Linked DNA regions of Homo sapiens. The protein of the gene in region 1 interacts with the protein of each later gene in a pairwise test. Each region holds a gene or a part of one and is shown in the gene's direction. Other genes may lie near its edges.

Region 1 (3,649 bases):
ATATTCCAAAAGCCGAAAACATCTGAAATCCAAAACATGCTTGTGCCCAAGCATTTCAGATGAGGGATACTCAGCCTGTATTTATTCTTTCTTAGCAGCCTCAAAACCAACTTTAGATCCCATCATTACTGTTGAGGGACTTAGAAAACGAGCAAGTCGGAATCCTGTGGAATCTGCCATGGAATTAAAAGAGAAAAGGTCTCGAACTCAGGAAGCAAAAGACATTAGAAGAGCCCAGAAGGAGGCCGCTGGCTTTCTTGACAGGAGCACATCTTCTACCCCTGTAAAATTCATAAGCCGAGGCCGCAGGCCAGATGTGATTCTGGAAAAAGGCGAAGTGATTGACTTTTCCTCCTTGAGCTCCTCTGACCGCACCCCGCTGACAAGCCCATCTCCTTCTCCTTCTCTGGATTTCTCTGCCCCTGGTACACCTGCCTCTCATTCTGCCACACCTAGCTTGCTTTCAGAAGCAGATCTGATTCCAGATGTGATGCCCCCACAAGCCTTGTTTCATGGTAAGAGTTTGTTTGCTTTGCTCTTTTATTTTGGGTATGGGCCATGGTATAAATGTACAAGTTTTCACCCCGTGGGCTGTGTGCTCTGCATTTCTTCCTTCCTATGTCTTGATGACACTGTTTTGTACTCTGCACAGATGACGATGAGATGGAAGGCGATGGAGTCATAGACCCAGGGATGGAGTACGTCCCACCCCCTGCTGGGTCAGTAGCTTCTGGGCCAGTGGTTGGGGTCAGAAAGAAGGTCAGAGGCCCTGAACAGATAAAGCAGGAGGTAGAGAGTGAGGAGGAAAAACCCGACAGGATGGATATTGACAGTGAAGACACAGATTCAAACACATCTTTGCAAACAAGGGCTAGAGAAAAGAGGAAGCCTCAGCTGGAGAAGGACACAAAGCCGAAAGAGCCCAGGTATACTCCCGTGAGCATCTACGAGGAAAAGCTGCTGCTCAAGAGGCTGGAAGCTTGTCCCGGTGCTGTTGCCATGACTCCGGAAGCTCGGAGACTGAAACGCAAACTGATTGTCAGACAAGCGAAAAGGGATAGGGGATTACCACTTTTTGACTTGGATCAAGTTGTTAATGCTGCTCTTTTGTTAGTTGACGGGATTTATGGAGCCAAAGAAGGAGGAATTTCCAGACTTCCAGCTGGACAAGCCACGTACAGAACCACCTGTCAGGACTTCAGAATCCTTGACCGATACCAGGTGAATGCAAGCACTTGCTGTAAAGCCCTTGGGGGCAGGAGTGGAGGTGGGGCAGGCAGCACTAGGCATTGGACATGGTTATGCTGTGACCTTTTAAATCCTGAGTAATTTGGGAAGAGAAAAGTAAAGTGCAAGGGAAAAAAATACAAAAATCGCTGGGCTTTATTTTTCAGAATTGTTCATTGTAAGTACACCTGAATACATCTGAGTTTTTCTTTTCCTTTAGGCATTCAAACATAACCTATAAGTTTTCTTCATCTGTCTCTCTTGTCTCTCTCTCTCTGAGGATAGATATGCATGGTTTGTGTCGTAGCTTTGACAAATTTGTTGAGGCCATGACGGTGTCTCTGACACTGTGTTGCAGAGGATCTGAAGGTGTGTAGACATCTGCGAAGGACAACATGAAGAAATAGCAGCCAAGGGATCAGTGTGGTATCAGTGTTGCTCAAAGGATGGTCGGTGGAACCCAAATTTTGTGGATGCTTCTGGGAACAATTAATTCCACTTAGAACTACCTGTATATACTCTCCCACTGGGAGGAACAAGAGGCCTTATTCCCTTTATCTTTGCTAGCACTTGACACTAACCAGCCTTTAAGTTTTGCTAATTGGCTGGCTGTAAAGTGAAATCTTGTTTTTTATTTATATTTCTTTGGTTACAGGTGAGGTTAAATTTCCTGGTTGTTTCTTTGTGAATTGCCTGTTTGGAGTCTGCATGTTTTTCTCTCTTCTCTGGAAGCTAGTGGGATCTGCTCTTCATTGCTGGTGTTCTGGTATTATTCAGTGATGTGCCGTATGTAGGGCTTATGTCTTTCCTTGTGCTGGACATGTGGTGTGTGGGCCCTTTCAATTTGAAACTTTCTTTCCTGAGTATGGAAAAGTCTTGATTTCCTATCTTCTATTTTTTCTGTTCTCTCATTTTAGAACTCCCCATTATTTGGATATTGGACCCTGTAGATTAAAAGTTGGCAAACTTTATCTGTAAAGAAATAAGTATTTCTGCCAGATAGTAATTATTTTAGGCTTTGCCGGCCACAAAATCTCATTCGGAACTCTTCAACTCTGCTGTTGTGATTGGAGAGCCGTAGTGAATGAGTGTGGCTGTGTTCCAGTAAAACTTTATCTACTAAAATGGGCAGTGGACTGGATTTAGCCTGGGGGCTATAGTTTACCAAGATCCCTACTCCAGATAGATCCTCTTTTCTTTTTTTTCCTAATTCCCATCTTTCCTGGGAAGCACAGTATTAACTGGCCTGCCTACCAGGAGCCAAGTCGGGAGGGCCCAGGAGCCCATCGTTTAGGAGGTAAACTGACTCTCCCTGTCTTCAGTACAGTACTCCCACCCTTGGCTTCCTGTGTCCAGAATCTCCCTCTTGAGCCTCTCCAGTCTTCTGCCCGTGGAGGGAAAGATCATTTCCTAGATGTGGGCAGTATAATTACTATAGGGGTATAATTGGAGCCTTTAACCTCTTAAAGAGCCTCACAATCCATAGTCATACCCCCCAGGCTCTAAGCCTGATGCCTTAGGTGACTACACTTCCCTGAGGCTGTGTTTTGTAAATCACCCTGCTTAGCTTCACCACTGGCTTAGGTATTGGCTTTCTTTGGTCTGTTAAGTCATTTGCTGCTTGTTCATATGCTTTTGTTAGTCATCTATTCACTTGTTCTTGTTCTTTTTTTTTTTTTTTTTGAGACATGGTCTCTCTCTGTCACGCAGGTTGGAATGTAGTGGCACAACCACAGCTCATTGCAGCCCCGAACTCTCAGGCTCAAGCAATTCTCCCACCTCAGCTTCCCAAGTAGCTGGTACTATAGGCACACACTACCACACTCAGCTAATTTTTTTTTTAATTTTTATTTTTAGTAGAGACAGGGTCCTACTATCTTGCCCAGACTGATCTCAAACTCCTGGGCTCGAGTGATCGCCTCAGCCTCCCAAAGTGCTGGGATTACAGGCATGAGCCATTGCGCCTGGCCAATATTCACCTGTTCTTTGTTCTTATTCTTGTGGGCCTGTCTGTTTACTGCCTATACTTAATTTTTTAAATTGTAAGATGTGTCATACAGATAGAAGGCAGCATAGAAATATGGTATAATTTAGATATTAGTAAAATAAATGCCCATGTATTCATCTCCTGGATAAAGAGTGTTGTAAACACCTTAGAAGTCTCCTGTGTACTTTCTGTTCCCCTCAGAGGAAGCCACTTTGACTTACAGTGTTAATTATTCTTTTGCTTTTTAAATGTGTATGTCTCTAAATGATATACTTTTCGTTTAAAAAAATACTGAGTAGCAAGCATAAATCTAGCTGTGTAAGTAAATTGCCACTATTAGATGAAGTTTCCTGGAGAAGATAAGCTAAATAGTCATTCTGGGTCATTGTTGTGGACTGAATTGTGTCCCCCTTAAGCATATGTTGAAGTCCCAAC
Region 2 (3,749 bases), on another chromosome or scaffold:
TAATTTTTGCATTTTTAGTAGAGAAGGGGTTCTGCCATTGTTGGCCAGGCTGGTCTCAAAACTCCTGAACTCAAGTGACCTGCCCACCTCAGCCCCCCAAAGTGCTGAGATTACAGGCGTGAGCCACCATGCCCAGCCCAGAACTCCAGTTATTCTGAATGTTACGTTCAATTACACTGACAAAAGAAAGATGATTCAGTTATACACTTTATACACAAACCTTAATTAGAAAGTCCTACTGGTGGTTACCAAAGGCTGTGGTAAAGAATTGTTAAATCAAAGCCCTAATATCTCCCAGATGACCTCAACTCACCTGGTTTCCTCTTTGCCGCCTTGGGGGTTGCCCAGTCCACAACCTGCACTTCCTTCTCTATTCCTGGGCTCCGTTTACTTACTTTTTCTGTCCGTGGATTTCTAGCCTGTGAGCAGATTACTAACACCATTTGGATAAAGACAGTCTCTTATTTATCATTTTAGGACAAGCAATGAGATGTAGGAAAAAAAAACAACAAAGTAAACCAAAGAACAAAAGAGACTTTGGACCCTGACAAGGGAGGGTTTCAGTCGCACAGCCACTGCTTCCTTCACTTCACATCTCTTGACAATCTGACAGGGAGCACTGATCTGAGGAAAGATTTTTCAAATTATTTTAAGGAGAAAAACTTGAACTTCTTTGGGAGTCAGTAGGTTAGGGGTTCACTTACTGTGCTATTGAAAAAGTTACCAATAAAAATTTATACCAACTTTAGTCATATATAAAATGGGGAACAATAATGACTGAATTTAAAACTCACAATTTGAGATATAAAAAAATACTCGGGCGGGGAGTGGTGGCTCACGCCTGTAATCCCAACACTTTGGGAGGACAAGGCTGGAGAATTACTTGAGGGCAGGAGTTCGAGACCAGCCAGGTCAAAATAGCCAGACCCCCCCACTTGCCCTCTACAAAATAAATAACAAATACTCTATAGACTTTAAAAGCTACTATTATTAGTTCGTTGGCAGATGAAAAGATGCTCGGTATTAGTACAGAGAAACCTGGAGTTTTAGTTGGTTGAGTAACTTACTTAGGAAATGGAATGTATTTGGTACGAGAAAATAGCTTTCTTCAAGCCGCCAGTCTGGTCTCTGAAGTCTACTGTTGCCACAAGTTCCATTATTAAATCCCTTCACACATCCTGCTCAAGTCTCTGGCCACTGTTTTTTTGTTTTTTGTTTTTTGTTTTTTTTCCCCGTAGAATCGTTCTGAAGGAGTGCTCAATCTCCCAATGTCTCCGGAACCATACTTTGGATAATTACATTTAAAGTGAACAGAAAAGGGCCAGGAATAGTATTAGTAATTCAACCCAGACAAAAGTCACCCCATGAATAAGAAAGAATGCAATTTTAGCATTTACAAATTGTGGGGGAGGGAACAGAAGGGGAGAAGAAAAGAAGAGGTGAGGTGGAGAGAAAAAGGGTCTTCGGGCGGCAGGAAGTGGGAGGAGACTTTGCAAATAGCAATCTTGGGGCAGGGGCCATTTTGGAAGCATGTTGCGAGGCTCCGCTTCTTCTACAAGTATGGAGAAGGCAAAAGGCAAGGAGGTCAGTACAGTTTTAGTGGATTTGTTTTCTGTCTGTCTTTGTGTTTCTGTCTTCCCTGGGCACTCCTGATTTTTCCTTTAAGGAGAAAAGAATGTGCCTTCGAATTTTCTCCTCTTGACTTTTTTTTTTTTTATTTTAAGAGTAAGGCCCAAGAATATGATTGCAGCCTGGTATATTGGAGTGAGCAGACAAGTAAGAAATGAGGTTTTCTAGGTTTAGTTGAGGAGGTTGAGTGTGTCAAAAGATGGGGAAAAAAAAAAAAGAGGCCGGGCGCGGTGGCTCACGCCTGTAATCCCAGCACTTTGGGCAGCCGAGGCGGGCGGATCACCTGAGGTCGGGAGTTCGAGACCAGCCTGACCAAAATGGAGAAACCCCGTCTCTACTAAAAGTACAAAATTAGCCAGGTGTGGTGGCGCACACCTGTAATCCCAGCTACTCGGGAGGCTGAGGCAGGAGAATCGCTTGAACCCGGGAGTCGGGGGTTGCGGTGAGCCGAGATCGCCCCATTGCACCCCCAGCTTGGGCAACCAGAGCGAAACTCCACCTCAAAAGAAAAAGTTAAAAAATTAGGTTTTCAGGTTTGTGTTTTGGAACAGGGTTTCACTTTTGTCTCCCTGGCTGGAGTGCAGTGGCACCATCACTATTCACTGTAACCGCCCAGGCTCAAACGATCCTCCCACCTCGGCTTACCAAAGTGCTACTGGGACTGCAGGCGCCCGCCGCTGCTCCCGGCCCGGGTTTTCTGTTTTGAAGAGGTGCTTAGTCCTGTCAGAAAGAACTAACTGAATATGGGGGCTAGAGGGAAATGGTAACAGGAGAAAAGGGTGTTAAAGGAAAGATTTTAGGAAGAGGTAATTGAGCTGAGTTTGGAAAAGAATGAAACCCCTTAATTTCCTTTAGACGGACACAGATCCTAAACCGAGGGTGCTGAGAATGAATTCGTCCCCTTTTCCCAGCGTCCTTAGGACCTAGGAGTAATCAGAAGCCAGACATTGGGAACAATGCAGACAGAAACTGAAGGAAGAGAGGATTTAAGACGTTGCACAGGCACTGAACGGCCATATCCGAGCGCTCTCAGGTCCTCTTGACTTGAACTGGGTCATTTTTAACTGTCTCGGTTTTAAGTCTTTTGTGAGGTCCAAAGTGAGTACTTTTTGTAAGGTTTATGCAAATATAAATTTCAAATCAAAATGTAGAACTGCTATAGAGATGTAAAAATGCCATACAAATGTTAATTTGTCCAGTAATCCACCCTGAAAGTGAAGAAAAGGATTTAGATTTAGGAGAAATTTTATTATATTAATTTTTTTTTTTTAATGAGTTTGACTCTGTCGCCCAGAGTGGTGTGCAGTAGCCGATCTCGGCTCACTGCAGCCTCTGCTTCCCGGGTTCAAGCGATTCTCCTGACTCAGCCTCTCGATTAGCTGGGATTGCAGGCACGCACCACCACGCCCAGGTAGTTTTTGTATTTTTGGTAGTGACTGAGTTTCGATATGTTAGCCAGGCTGGTCTCGAACTCCTGACCTCAATCGGTCAGCCCACCTCGGCCTCCCAAAGTGCCGGGATTACAGGCGTGAGCCACGGAGCCTAGCCTTTATATTTAAATTTTAATTTATATCTAATGTACCCCTAATCTGTGTCTTTATGTTACCTCTGATTCTCAGCTTCTGTGTCTGAGAAGTAATTGTTGCCAGATTGCTATGAGAATTAAATGAATGAAAAAAGGAAGGCCAAGGCCAGGCACAGTGGCACACGCCTGTAATCCCAGCACTTTGGGAGGCTGAGGTGGGCGGATCACTTGAGGCCAGGAGTTTGAGACCAGCCTGGCCAACATGGTGAAACCCCCATCTCTACTAAAAATAGAAAAATTCAGCCGGGTGTGGTGGCAGGCGCCTGTAATTCCAGCTAGTGGGGAGGCTGAGGCAGAGAATTGCTTAAACCGGGGAGATGGAAGTTGCAGTGAGCCGAGATTGGACCACTGCACTACAGCCGGGGTGACAGAGCGAGACTCCTCTCAGAGAAAAAGAAAATAGGGAACCCTTGGGCGCAGTGGCTCGCGCCTTTAATCCCAACTCTTTGGGGAGCCAAGGCGGGAAGATTGCTTGAGGCTAGAAGATTGAGATCAGTGGGGGGAGACATAGGGAGACCTCACCTCTACAAAAAAT

Evidence for each region. The genes of interacting proteins can lie anywhere in the genome.
Region 2: the proteins of KAT14 (region 1) and DPPA4 interact in binary tests that used the Homo sapiens proteins (3 or more experiments, as listed by UniProt).

Annotation. Positions count from the first base shown.
Region 1 is NC_000020.11:18,161,725-18,165,373, forward strand, and holds part of KAT14 (cysteine-rich protein 2-binding protein), read left to right. Parts: intron 1-95; coding exon of another isoform or gene 96-98; coding exon 99-515; intron 516-652; coding exon 653-1,221; intron 1,222-3,649. UniProt on the Homo sapiens protein: Component of the ATAC complex, a complex with histone acetyltransferase activity on histones H3 and H4. May function as a scaffold for the ATAC complex to promote ATAC complex stability. Has also weak histone acetyltransferase activity toward histone H4.
Region 2 is NC_000003.12:109,335,299-109,339,047, reverse strand, and holds the start of DPPA4 (developmental pluripotency-associated protein 4), read left to right. Parts: upstream 1-1,501; 5' UTR 1,502-1,530; coding exon 1,531-1,584; intron 1,585-2,340; exon of another isoform or gene 2,341-2,727; intron 2,728-3,749. UniProt on the Homo sapiens protein: May be involved in the maintenance of active epigenetic status of target genes. May inhibit differentiation of embryonic cells into a primitive ectoderm lineage.